2 linked regions of the Homo sapiens genome follow. Each later gene encodes a partner of the first gene's protein in a complex. Each region holds a gene or a part of one and is shown in the gene's direction. Other genes may lie near its edges.

Region 1 (5,347 bases):
GTGGCCCCAGTTAAAACACACATACCCTCTCTGCTGCTTTCAAATTCCCTAGCATGGTGGCCTTTCAACATTGATTAAATTTTAAAATCCTAATTTAAAGATCAGGTGAGCAAAATGAGTAGCACATCAGTAATTCAGTAGACAAAACTTTTGTCTGAAAAATTGCTGTATTGAAACAGAGCCCTAAAATACCAAAAGACCAGGTAATTTTAACATTTGTGGAATCACAAATGTAAATTCATAAGAAGCTCTAATTAAAAAAAAAAAGTCTGAAGTATATGAGCATAACAACTTAGGAGTGTGTCTACATACTTAACTTTTGAAGTTTTTTGGCAACTTTATATACTTTTTTTAAATTTACAAGTCTACTTAAAGACTTCTTATACCCCAAATGATTAAGTTAATTTTAGAGGTCACCTTTCTCACAGCAGTGTCACTTGAAATTTAGTAGGGAAGGATATTGCAGTATTTTTCAGTTTCCTTAGCACAGCACCACAGAAAGCAGCTTATTCCTTTTGAGTGGCAGACACTCGACGGTGCCTGCCCAACTTTCCTCCTGAGTGGCAAGCAGATGAGTCTCAGTAATTCATACTGAACCAAAATGCCACATACACTAGGGGCAGTCAGAAACTGGCTGAGAAATCCCCCGCCTCATTCGCCCCTCTGCTCCCAGGAACTAGAGTCCAGTTAAAGCCCCTATGCGAAAGGCCGAATTCCACCCCAGGGTTTGTTATAACAGTGGCCAGTCTGAACCCCATTTGCTCGTGCTCAAAACTTGATTCCCACTTGAAAGCCTTCCGGGCGCGCTGCCTCGTTGCCCCGCCCCTTTGGCAGGAGAGAGGCAGTGGGCGAGGCCGGGCTGGGGCCCCGCCTCCCACTCACCTGCCGGTGCCTGAAATTATGTGCGGCCCCGCGGGCTGCTTTCCGAGGTCAGAGTGCCCTGCTGCTGTCTCAGAGGCATCTGTTCTGCAAATCTTAGGAAGAAAAATGTCCCTAGTAGCAAACGGGTGTCTTCTGTGCATAAATAAGTACAACACAATTCTCCGAAAGTTCGGGTAAAAAGAGATGCGGTAGCAGCTGCCCTGTGTGAAGCTGTCTACCCCGCATCTCTCAGGCGCTAAGCTCAGTTTTTGTTTTTGTTTTTGTTTTTTTAAAGAAAAGATGTATAATTGCAGGAATTTTTTTTTATTTTTTTATTTTCCATCATTCTATATATGTGATGGTGAAAGATATGCCTGGAAAAGTTTTGTTTTGAAAAGTTTATTTTCTGCTTCGTCTTCAGTTGGCAAAAGCTCTCAATTCTTTAGCTTCCAGTTTCTTTTCTCTCTTTTTCTTTGTTAGGTAATTAAAGGTATGTAAACAAATTATCTCATGTAGCAGGGGATTTTCATGTTGAGAGGAATCTTCCGTGTGAGTTGTTTGGTCACACAAATAACCCTTTCTCAATTTTAGGAGTTTGGATTGTCAAATGTAGGTTTTTCTCAAAGGGGGCATATAACTACATATTGACTGCCAAGAACTATGACTGTAGCACTAATCAGCACACATAGAGCCACACAATTATTTAATTTCTAACTCTCTGTGGTCCCTAGAAAAATTCCGTTGATGTGCTTAGGTTAAAGTTCTGAAGATACCCGTTGTACCCTTACTTGAAAGTTTCTAATCTTAAGTTTTATGAAATGCAATAATATGTATCAGCTAGCAATATTTCTGTGATCACCAACAACTCTCAGTTTGATCTTAAAGTCTGAATAATAAAACAAATCCCAGCAGTAATACATTTCTTAAACCTCACAGTGCATGATATATCTTTTCATTCTGATCCTGTGTTTGCAAAAATATACACATGTATATCATAGTTCCTCACTTTTTATTCATTTGTTTTCCTATTACCTGTAGTAAATATATTAGTTAGTACATGGAATTTATAGCATCAGCTACCCCCAGGAACAGCACCTGACAGGCGGGGGATTTTTTTTCAAGTTGTTCTACATTTGCATAAATTATTTCTATTATTATTCATGTATGTTATTTATTTCTGAATCACACTAGTCCTGTGAAAGTACAACTGAAGGCAGAAAGTGTTAGGATTTTGCATCTAATGTTCATTATCATGGTATTGATGGACCTAAGAAAATAAAAATTAGACTAAGCCCCCAAATAAGCTGCATGCATTTGTAACATGATTAGTAGATTTGAATATATAGATGTAGTATTTTGGGTATCTAGGTGTTTTATCATTATGTAAAGGAATTAAAGTAAAGGACTTTGTAGTTGTTTTTATTAAATATGCATATAGTAGAGTGCAAAAATATAGCAAAAATAAAAACTAAAGGTAGAAAAGCATTTTAGATATGCCTTAATTTAGAAACTGTGCCAGGTGGCCCTCGGAATAGATGCCAGGCAGAGACCAGTGCCTGGGTGGTGCCTCCTCTTGTCTGCCCTCATGAAGAAGCTTCCCTCACGTGATGTAGTGCCCTCGTAGGTGTCATGTGGAGTAGTGGGAACAGGCAGTACTGTTGAGAGGAGAGCAGTGTGAGAGTTTTTCTGTAGAAGCAGAACTGTCAGCTTGTGCCTTGAGGCTTCCAGAACGTGTCAGATGGAGAAGTCCAAGTTTCCATGCTTCAGGCAACTTAGCTGTGTACAGAAGCAATCCAGTGTGGTAATAAAAAGCAAGGATTGCCTGTATAATTTATTATAAAATAAAAGGGATTTTAACAACCAACAATTCCCAACACCTCAAAAGCTTGTTGCATTTTTTGGTATTTGAGGTTTTTATCTGAAGGTTAAAGGGCAAGTGTTTGGTATAGAAGAGCAGTATGTGTTAAGAAAAGAAAAATATTGGTTCACGTAGAGTGCAAATTAGAACTAGAAAGTTTTATACGATTATCATTTTGAGATGTGTTAAAGTAGGTTTTCACTGTAAAATGTATTAGTGTTTCTGCATTGCCATAGGGCCTGGTTAAAACTTTCTCTTAGGTTTCAGGAAGACTGTCACATACAGTAAGCTTTTTTCCTTCTGACTTATAATAGAAAATGTTTTGAAAGTAAAAAAAAAAAATCTAATTTGGAAATTTGACTTGTTAGTTTCTGTGTTTGAAATCATGGTTCTAGAAATGTAGAAATTGTGTATATCAGATACTCATCTAGGCTGTGTGAACCAGCCCAAGATGACCAACATCCCCACACCTCTACATCTCTGTCCCCTGTATCTCTTCCTTTCTACCACTAAAGTGTTCCCTGCTACCATCCTGGCTTGTCCACATGGTGCTCTCCATCTTCCTCCACATCATGGACCACAGGTGTGCCTGTCTAGGCCTGGCCACCACTCCCAACTTGACCTAGCCACATTCATCTAGAGATGGTTCCTGATGCTGGGCACAGACTGTGCTCATGGCACCCATTAGAAATGCCTCTAGCATCTTTGTATGCATCTTGATTTTTAAACCAAGTCATTGTACAGAGCATTCAGTTTTGGCTGTGGTACCAAGAGAAAAACTAATCAAGAATATAAACCACATTCCAGGCTGCTGTTTTCTCTCCATCTACAGGCCACACTTTTACTGTATTTCTTCATACTTGAAATTCATTCTGCTATTTTCATATCAGGGTACAGACTTATAAGGGTGCATGTTCCTTAAAGGTGCATAATTATTCTTATTCCGTTTGCTTATATTGCTACAGAATGCTCTGTTTTGGTGCTTTGAGTTCTGCAGACCCAAGAAGCAGTGTGGAAATTCACTGCCTGGGACACAGTCTTATAAGAATGTTGGCAGGTGACTTTGTATCAGATGTTGCTTCTCTTTTCTCTGTACACAGATTGAGAGTTACCACAGTGGCCTGTCGGGTCCACCCTGTGGGTGCAGCACAGCTCTCTGAAAGCAAGAACCTTCCTACCTATTCTAACGTTTTTGCCCTCTAAGAAAAATGGCCTCAGGTATGGTATAGACATAGCAAGAGGGGAAGGGCTGTCTCACTCTAGCAACCATCCCTCCATTACACACAGAAAGCCCTCTTGAAGCAAAAGAAGAAGAAAGAAAGAAAGCTTATCTCTAAGGCTACTGTCTTCAGAATGCTCTGAGCTGAATGCTCTTGCTCCTTTCCCAAGAGGCAGATGAAAATATAGCCAGTTTATCTATACCCTTCCTATCTGAGGAGGAGAATAGAAAAGTAGGGTAAATATGTAACGTAAAATATGTCATTCAAGGACCACCAAAACTTTAAGTACCCTATCATTAAAAATCTGGTTTTAAAAGTAGCTCAAGTAAGGGATGCTTTGTGACCCAGGGTTTCTGAAGTCAGATAGCCATTCTTACCTGCCCCTTACTCTGACTTATTGGGAAAGGGAGAACTGCAGTGGTGTTTCTGTTGCAGTGGCAAAGGTAACATGTCAGAAAATTCAGAGGGTTGCATACCAATAATCCTTTGGAAACTGGATGTCTTACTGGGTGCTAGAATGAAAATGTAGGTATTTATTGTCAGATGATGAAGTTCATTGTTTTTTTCAAAATTGGTGTTGAAATATCACTGTCCAATGTGTTCACTTATGTGAAAGCTAAATTGAATGAGGCAAAAAGAGCAAATAGTTTGTATATTTGTAATACCTTTTGTATTTCTTACAATAAAAATATTGGTAGCAAATAAAAATAATAAAAACAATAACTTTAAACTGCTTTCTGGAGATGAATTACTCTCCTGGCTATTTTCTTTTTTACTTTAATGTAAAATGAGTATAACTGTAGTGAGTAAAATTCATTAAATTCCAAGTTTTAGCAGAATGTGTTTTTTTTCTTTCTTTTTTTTTTTTTTTTTTTTTTTTTGGTGCTTCTTATTTGCAACCTGGCCATGTGGTAGAAAGAATGTGTTTTAAAGTTTTACTTTAAGAGATTCCTTTTCAGGCTTCTAGTGTTTAAAAAGTAAATAACAGCTAAGTGAGCTTAGAACTCATTCAACAATTGGCCGGGCACGGTGGCTCATGCCTTTAATCCCAGTACTTTGGGAGGCCGAGGCAGGCAGATCACCAGAGGTCAGGAGTTCAAGACCAGGCTGGCCAACGTGGTGAAACCCTGTGTCTACTAAAAATACATGAAAACTAGCCGGGCATGGTGGCACGCGCCTGTAATCCCAGCTACTCAGGAGACTGAGGCAGGAGAATCACTTGAACCTGGGAAGTGGAGGTTGCAGTGACCTAAGATGGCGCCACTGCACTCCTGCCTAAGCAACAGAGCAAGACTCCATCTCAAAAAAAAAAAAGAACTCATTCAACAATCATGCGTTGCTTAATGACTGAGATACAGTCTGAGAGATGCATTGTTAGGGGATTTCATCGTTGTGAGAACATCATAGA
Region 2 (7,196 bases), on another chromosome or scaffold:
AGAGCGTTACATGCTTCATTTAATCCCTAAACAACTGTTTGAGGCAAGTACAGTTATTATCCTAATCATGCAAATGAGAAAACAGAGGCCCAGACATGTTGAGTAACTTTGATAAAAGTTAAAGAACCAATAAGTGGAACAGTTGAGGTTTGAACCCTGGCAGTCTGACTGTAGAGATACTATGTTTGACCTACTCCCCTCTGCCCCCACCCCATGTCTGCCCTTAGTTTCTGAGCTTGTTGAATGAATGAACAGGTGGTAGTCTTTTTTTGTTATAAGACTGATCAGAATTAAGACAGGTTTAAATTTCACGTGTAGAATTTTCAAAACTGCAAAGGCAGTGCAAATCTAAAAAAAGAATGGCATTCTCAGGAAAGAGGAAAAGTAAGTGTGAGAATAATAATAACAATAACCAACAAACTTTAGTAAATTTAGTAAATGTAGTAAATTTTTACATTAAAAGCTTTTGGACATACATTATCATATTTTATGGCCACATGAAATATATTATAATCCCATTTTGCACATAGGAAATCTGAGACTGGCATAAGGAGCACAGAGATCCAGGACTTTATATTTTCATTCTTCTAGGATTTTGCACCTCAGGTCGATATGTATGAGTAAACTGGGAGTATAATGGGCTCTTTAACAGAAAAACTAGGAAAGTTTTCCCACTATTATTAATTATTTACATAATATTTTTTTAATTTTATTATTATTTATACTTTAAGTTTTAGAGTACATGTGCACAATGTGCAGGTTTGTTACATATGTATACATGTGCCATGTTGGTGTGCTGCACCCATCAACTCATCATTTAGCATTAGGTATATCTCCTAATGCTATCCCTCCCCCCTCCCCCCTACATAAGATTTATAATGGATAATGGACTTCAATTTCTAGAGCAAAATGGCCCCACCCAAGGATGCCATAATCCTTCCAGAGCTCTACTGCAAGATATGAGATATACATATCTAAAACTTGTTCTTGGTATTTCCAAAGCAGTCAACTTTTACACCTGTTTATAATGCATCCAAATGTTGTTTTTATATGGTTGCATCTCCCATCTTCTTCACCAATAGCTATATATATTTTTCACAAGAGCTGAAAGAGTTCTTGATGTAGGAATCCATGGTAGAGTTTCAGAGAAATCCCTGAATTCACTGAAAGTTTTATCTAGAAATACATGTGCAAGTGAACACATCTTTTTTAAAAAAAATCATTACCTACTTTCTTTTTTGAGAAGAAGGTATTTATTTCAACAGACTCTTGAAGGAGCCTACTCTTCCCACTCTCCCACCCCCATTAAGAACCACTGTAGGCCGGGCACGATGGCTCATGCCTGTAATCCCAGCACTTTGGGAGGCTAAGGTGGGTGGATCACCTGAGGTCAGGAGTTCGAGACAAGCCTAGCCAACATAGTGAAACCCCGTCTCTACTAATAATACAAAAATTAGCTGGGTATGGCAGCATGTGCCTGTAATCCCAGCTACTCGGGAGGCTGAGGCAGGAGAATTGCTCGAACCCGGGAGGCGGAGGTTGCAGTGAACCGAGAGAGATCGTGCGGTGCCATTTCACTCCAGCCTGGGCAACAGAGCGAAACTCCATCTCAAAAAAACACACAAAACAAACAAACAAAAAGAAAGAACCATTGTATTAGTGATGGAAATGTGTTCCCTCCCTCCCATCCTGGCAACCACTTTCTTCCTCCTCCATCATAAAATATCTTAAACTAAACTAAAATAATTTTATTTATCGATAGTTTGAATTTTCCCTATCATTGCTACACAGCTAATTGAGAGGTACCCCGAGGAAAATATAAATGGTACAGTAATGCATTGTAGATTTTAATAACATACTTGACATCCCAAATTGTTTTCATTGGCTTCATTTTAAAAACTACATGTTTTAAAATCAAGCAGACACTAAAAGTACAAGATATACTGGGTCTACAAGGTTTAAGTCAACCAGGGATTGAAATATAACTTTTAAACAGAGCTGGATTATCCAGTAGGCAGATTAAGCATGTGCTTAAGGCATCAGCAAAGTCTGAGCAATCCATTTTTTAAAACGTAGTACATGTTTTTGATAAGCTTAAAAAGTAGTAGTCACAGGAAAAATTAGAACTTTTACCTCCTTGCGCTTGTTATACTCTTTAGTGCTGTTTAACTTTTCTTTGTAAGTGAGGGTGGTGGAGGGTGCCCATAATCTTTTCAGGGAGTAAGTTCTTCTTGGTCTTTCTTTCTTTCTTTCTTTCTTTTTTTCTTGAGACCAAGTTTCGCTCTTGTCTCCCAGGCTGGAGTGCAATGGCGCGATCTCGGCTCACTGCAACCTCCGCCTTCTCCTGGGTTCAAGCGATTCTCCTACATCAGCCTCCGAGTAGCTGGGATTACAGGCATGCGCCACCAAGCCCCGCTAATTTTGTATTTTTTAGTAGAGACAGGGTTTCGCCATGTTGGTCAGGCTTGTCTCGAACTCCTGGCCTCAGGTGATCCGCCTGTCTCGGCCTCCCAGAATGCTGGGATTATAGACGTGAGCCACCGCATCCGGACTTTCCTTTTATGTAATAGTGATAATTCTATCCAAAGCATTTTTTTTTTTTTTTTTGAGTCGGAGTCTCATTCTGTCACCCAGGCTGGAGGGTGGTGGCGCGATCTCGGCTTACTGCAACCTCTGCCTCCCGGGTTCAAGCGATTCTCCTGCCTCAGCCTCCTGAGTAGCTGGAATTACACACGTGCGCCACCATGGCCAGCTAATTTTTGTATTTTTAGTAGAGACGGGGTGTCACCATTTTGGCCAAGCTGGCCTCGAACTCCTGACCTCAGGTGATCTGCCCGCCTCGGCTTCCCAAAGTGCTGGGATTACAGGTGTGAGCCACCGCGTCCTGCTCCAAAGCATTTTCTTTCTATGCCTCAAAACAAGATTGCAAGCCAGTCCTCAAAGCGGATAATTCAAGAGCTAACAGGTATTAGCTTAGGATGTGTGGCACTGTTCTTAAGGCTTATATGTATTAATACATCATTTAAACTCACAACAACCCCTATAAAGCAGGGGGCACTCATATTCCCTTCCCCCTTTATAATTACGAAAAATGCAAGGTATTTTCAGTAGGAAAGAGAAATGTGAGAAGTGTGAAGGAGACAGGACAGTATTTGAAGCTGGTCTTTGGATCACTGTGCAACTCTGCTTCTAGAACACTGAGCACTTTTTCTGGTCTAGGAATTATGACTTTGAGAATGGAGTCCGTCCTTCCAATGACTCCCTCCCCATTTTCCTATCTGCCTACAGGCAGAATTCTCCCCCGTCCGTATTAAATAAACCTCATCTTTTCAGAGTCTGCTCTTATACCAGGCAATGTACACGTCTGAGAAACCCTTGCCCCAGACAGCCGTTTTACACGCAGGAGGGGAAGGGGAGGGGAAGGAGAGAGCAGTCCGACTCTCCAAAAGGAATCCTTTGAACTAGGGTTTCTGACTTAGTGAACCCCGCGCTCCTGAAAATCAAGGGTTGAGGGGGTAGGGGGACACTTTCTAGTCGTACAGGTGATTTCGATTCTCGGTGGGGCTCTCACAACTAGGAAAGAATAGTTTTGCTTTTTCTTATGATTAAAAGAAGAAGCCATACTTTCCCTATGACACCAAACACCCCGATTCAATTTGGCAGTTAGGAAGGTTGTATCGCGGAGGAAGGAAACGGGGCGGGGGCGGATTTCTTTTTAACAGAGTGAACGCACTCAAACACGCCTTTGCTGGCAGGCGGGGGAGCGCGGCTGGGAGCAGGGAGGCCGGAGGGCGGTGTGGGGGGCAGGTGGGGAGGAGCCCAGTCCTCCTTCCTTGCCAACGCTGGCTCTGGCGAGGGCTGCTTCCGGCTGGTGCCCCCGGGGGAGACCCAACCTGGGGCGACTTCAGGGGTGCCACATTCGCTAAGTGCTCGGAGTTAATAGCACCTCCTCCGAGCACTCGCTCACGGCGTCCCCTTGCCTGGAAAGATACCGCGGTCCCTCCAGAGGATTTGAGGGACAGGGTCGGAGGGGGCTCTTCCGCCAGCACCGGAGGAAGAAAGAGGAGGGGCTGGCTGGTCACCAGAGGGTGGGGCGGACCGCGTGCGCTCGGCGGCTGCGGAGAGGGGGAGAGCAGGCAGCGGGCGGCGGGGAGCAGCATGGAGCCGGCGGCGGGGAGCAGCATGGAGCCTTCGGCTGACTGGCTGGCCACGGCCGCGGCCCGGGGTCGGGTAGAGGAGGTGCGGGCGCTGCTGGAGGCGGGGGCGCTGCCCAACGCACCGAATAGTTACGGTCGGAGGCCGATCCAGGTGGGTAGAGGGTCTGCAGCGGGAGCAGGGGATGGCGGGCGACTCTGGAGGACGAAGTTTGCAGGGGAATTGGAATCAGGTAGCGCTTCGATTCTCCGGAAAAAGGGGAGGCTTCCTGGGGAGTTTTCAGAAGGGGTTTGTAATCACAGACCTCCTCCTGGCGACGCCCTGGGGGCTTGGGAAGCCAAGGAAGAGGAATGAGGAGCCACGCGCGTACAGATCTCTCGAATGCTGAGAAGATCTGAAGGGGGGAACATATTTGTATTAGATGGAAGTATGCTCTTTATCAGATACAAAATTTACGAACGTTTGGGATAAAAAGGGAGTCTTAAAGAAATGTAAGATGTGCTGGGACTACTTAGCCTCCAATTCACAGATACCTGGATGGAGCTTATCTTTCTTACTAGGAGGGATTATCAGTGGAAATCTGTGGTGTATGTTGGAATAAATATCGAATATAAATTTTGATCGAAATTATTCAGAAGCGGCCGGGCGCGGTGCCTCACGCCTTGTAATCCCTTCACTTTGGGAGATCAAGGCGGGGGGAATCACCTGAGGTCGGGAGTTCGAGACCAGCCTGGCCAACAGGTGAAACCTCGCCTCTACTAAAAATACAAAAAGTAGCCGGGGGTGGTGGCAGGCGCCTGTAATCCCAGCTACTCGGGAGGTTGAGGCAGGAGAATCGCTTGAACCCGGGAGGCTGAGGTTGTAGTGAACAGCGAGATGGAGCCACTTCACTCCAGCCTGGGTGACAGAGTGAGACTTTGTCGAAAGAAAGAAAGAGAGAAAGAGAGAGAGAAAAATTATTCAGAAGCAACTACATATTGTGTTTATTTTTAACTGAGTAGGGCAAATAAATATATGTTTGCTGTAGGAACTTAGGAAATAATGAGCCACATTCATGTGATCATTCCAGAGGTAATATGTAGTTACCATTTTGGGAATATCTGCTAACATTTTTGCTCTTTTACTATCTTTAGCTTACTTGATATAGTTTATTTGTGATAAGAGTTTTCAATTCCTCATTTTTGAACAGAGGTGTTTCTCCTCTCCCTACTCCTGTTTTGTGAGGGAGTTAGGGGAGGATTTAAAAGTAATTAATACATGGGTAACTTAGCATCTCTAAAATTTTGCCAACAGCTTGAACCCGGGAGTTTGGCTTTGTAGTCCTACAATATCTTAGAAGAGACCTTATTTGTTTAAAAACAAAAAGGAAAAAGAAAAGTGGATAGTTTTGACAATTTTTAATGGAGACGGGAGAAGAACATGTAGAAAAGGGGAAATGATGTTGGCTTAGAATCCTAACTACATTGGTGTTTAATATAGGAACATTTATTTATATAACATTTTAAAGTACTAAATTCATATTAGTATATTATCAAATGGATATATTATCAAATGGGTTTAAGCATCCTACACATTTTAATTCAATTGATTCATTTTCTTTTTGCTTTGGATTTCTATCATGATTTAAATATTTACATATGGGTTACTTTTTAGATTTTTCATACTATGAAATATAAGAAAAACCTTTAAGGCTAGTTTTATGACCAAGACGAAGGACTTCATTGAATACACAAAACAATAAATATACTGCAACATTTTGTCTTTCTTTTTGTAGCTGCAATTTGGTTTGCTTATACTTTCTCTTTGTCTCTTTGAAAACTGAGTCAGTTTCACTTTCTCAGGACAGGATTTAATAACCATAATATAATTTAGTATAATTCCTTGATTTAGGCAAATTATGCAATTTGTGTTTAGTATGAAATGTACCTAAAAATAAGTAACTCCTCTTTAACACCACCATCCTCAAACTAATATAACAAATAACAGTTATCCTAAAATAAATTGTCTACTTCCACCATGCAGCACTCAAATTTTAAGGTTGCTATGACTGCAGACAGTATTTTAAAATTCCTCTCTGGAAATGGCTTTGTTTCCAAGATGATTTAGGAACCAAAGAGGTGACCATCTCTTGTTTAATGAACTCTCAAATCATAAACCTGGGAAGTGTTTTAGTTTCCTACTGCTGCTGTTACAAATTATCACAAATGTGTTAGCTAAAACAAACACAAAATTATTATTTTACAGTTCTAGAGATCAGAAGTCAAAAATGGGTCCACAAGGTTTCATTCCTTTTGGAAACTCTAAGGGGCAATCTGTTTCCTTGTCTTTTCCAGCTTCTAGTGACCATCAAATTCCTTGGCTCATGGTCTCTGTATTTTCTCTGTGGCCTGTGCTTCCATTCTTGTATCTTCTCTCTGACTGTGACCCTCTAATAAAAACACTTGGGGTTATGTTGGGCCCACCCTGAAAATTCTGGATAATCTCCCTCAAGACCATTAATTAAATCACATCTGCAAAGCCTCTTTTGCCACATAAGTTAATGTATTAAAAGTTTTTGAGGATTAGGACATAGACATTGGGGGTGGGGGGGCATTATTCAGCCTACCACAGGAAGGAATTTTAGGGTTAATTAAACTAGCCTTCTTATTTTATACTTGAAGAAATTGAAGTTTTGGAATTGGAGAGCATTATGCTAAATGAAATAAGCCAAACACAGAAAGACAAATATCACATGTTCTCACTTATCTGTGAAATATAAAACAATTACATTCTTAGCAGTAAAGAGTAGAATGGTGGTTACTAGAGCTGGGGGGTGGGAGGAATGGGGAGATGGTAATCAAGATATAAAGCCTCAGTTAAGATGGGAGGAATAAGTTTGATTGTTTTTTTTGAGATGTGTTTCATAGCATGATGAATATAGCTAAATAGTAAATCCCAAATGCTCTCATTTGACAAAAATGTCAAATATTTGAGATGATGGATAGGTTACTTAGCTTGACTTAATAATTCCCCATTGTGTTCAAAGATCATAACTTCATATT

The links.
Region 2: the proteins of CDK6 (region 1) and CDKN2A are in contact, whole or in part, in a crystal structure (PDB 1BI7), measured with the Homo sapiens proteins. Residues at the interface, in NP_001138778.1 of Homo sapiens: Glu14, Cys15, Val16, Ala17, Glu18, Ile19, Phe28, Lys29, Arg31, Leu33, Asn35, Gly36, Gly37, Arg38, Phe39, Arg44, His100, Asp102, Gln103, Asp104, Thr106, Thr107, Asp110, Lys111, Gln149, Thr154, Ser155, Leu166, Ala167, Arg168; in NP_000068.1 of Homo sapiens: Thr18 (codon at 4,210), Ala21 (codon at 4,219), Arg22 (codon at 4,222), Gly23 (codon at 4,225), Arg24 (codon at 4,228), Glu27 (codon at 4,237), Asn42 (codon at 4,282), Tyr44 (codon at 4,288), Arg46 (codon at 4,294), Gln50 (codon at 4,306), Val51, Met52, Met53, Met54, Gly55, Ser56, Arg58, Asp74, Ala76, Thr77, Thr79, Asp84, Arg87, Glu88, Gly89, Phe90, Asp92, Asp108, Trp110, His123.

Annotation. Positions count from the first base shown.
Region 1 is NC_000007.14:92,604,352-92,609,698, reverse strand, and holds the end of CDK6 (cyclin-dependent kinase 6), read left to right. Parts: 3' UTR 1-4,778; downstream 4,779-5,347. UniProt on the Homo sapiens protein: Serine/threonine-protein kinase involved in the control of the cell cycle and differentiation; promotes G1/S transition. Phosphorylates pRB/RB1 and NPM1.
Region 2 is NC_000009.12:21,971,790-21,978,985, reverse strand, and holds the start of CDKN2A (cyclin-dependent kinase inhibitor 2A), read left to right. Parts: upstream 1-4,128; 5' UTR 4,129-4,158; coding exon 4,159-4,308; coding exon of another isoform or gene 4,309-4,509; exon of another isoform or gene 4,510-4,582; intron 4,583-7,196. UniProt on the Homo sapiens protein: Acts as a negative regulator of the proliferation of normal cells by interacting strongly with CDK4 and CDK6. This inhibits their ability to interact with cyclins D and to phosphorylate the retinoblastoma protein.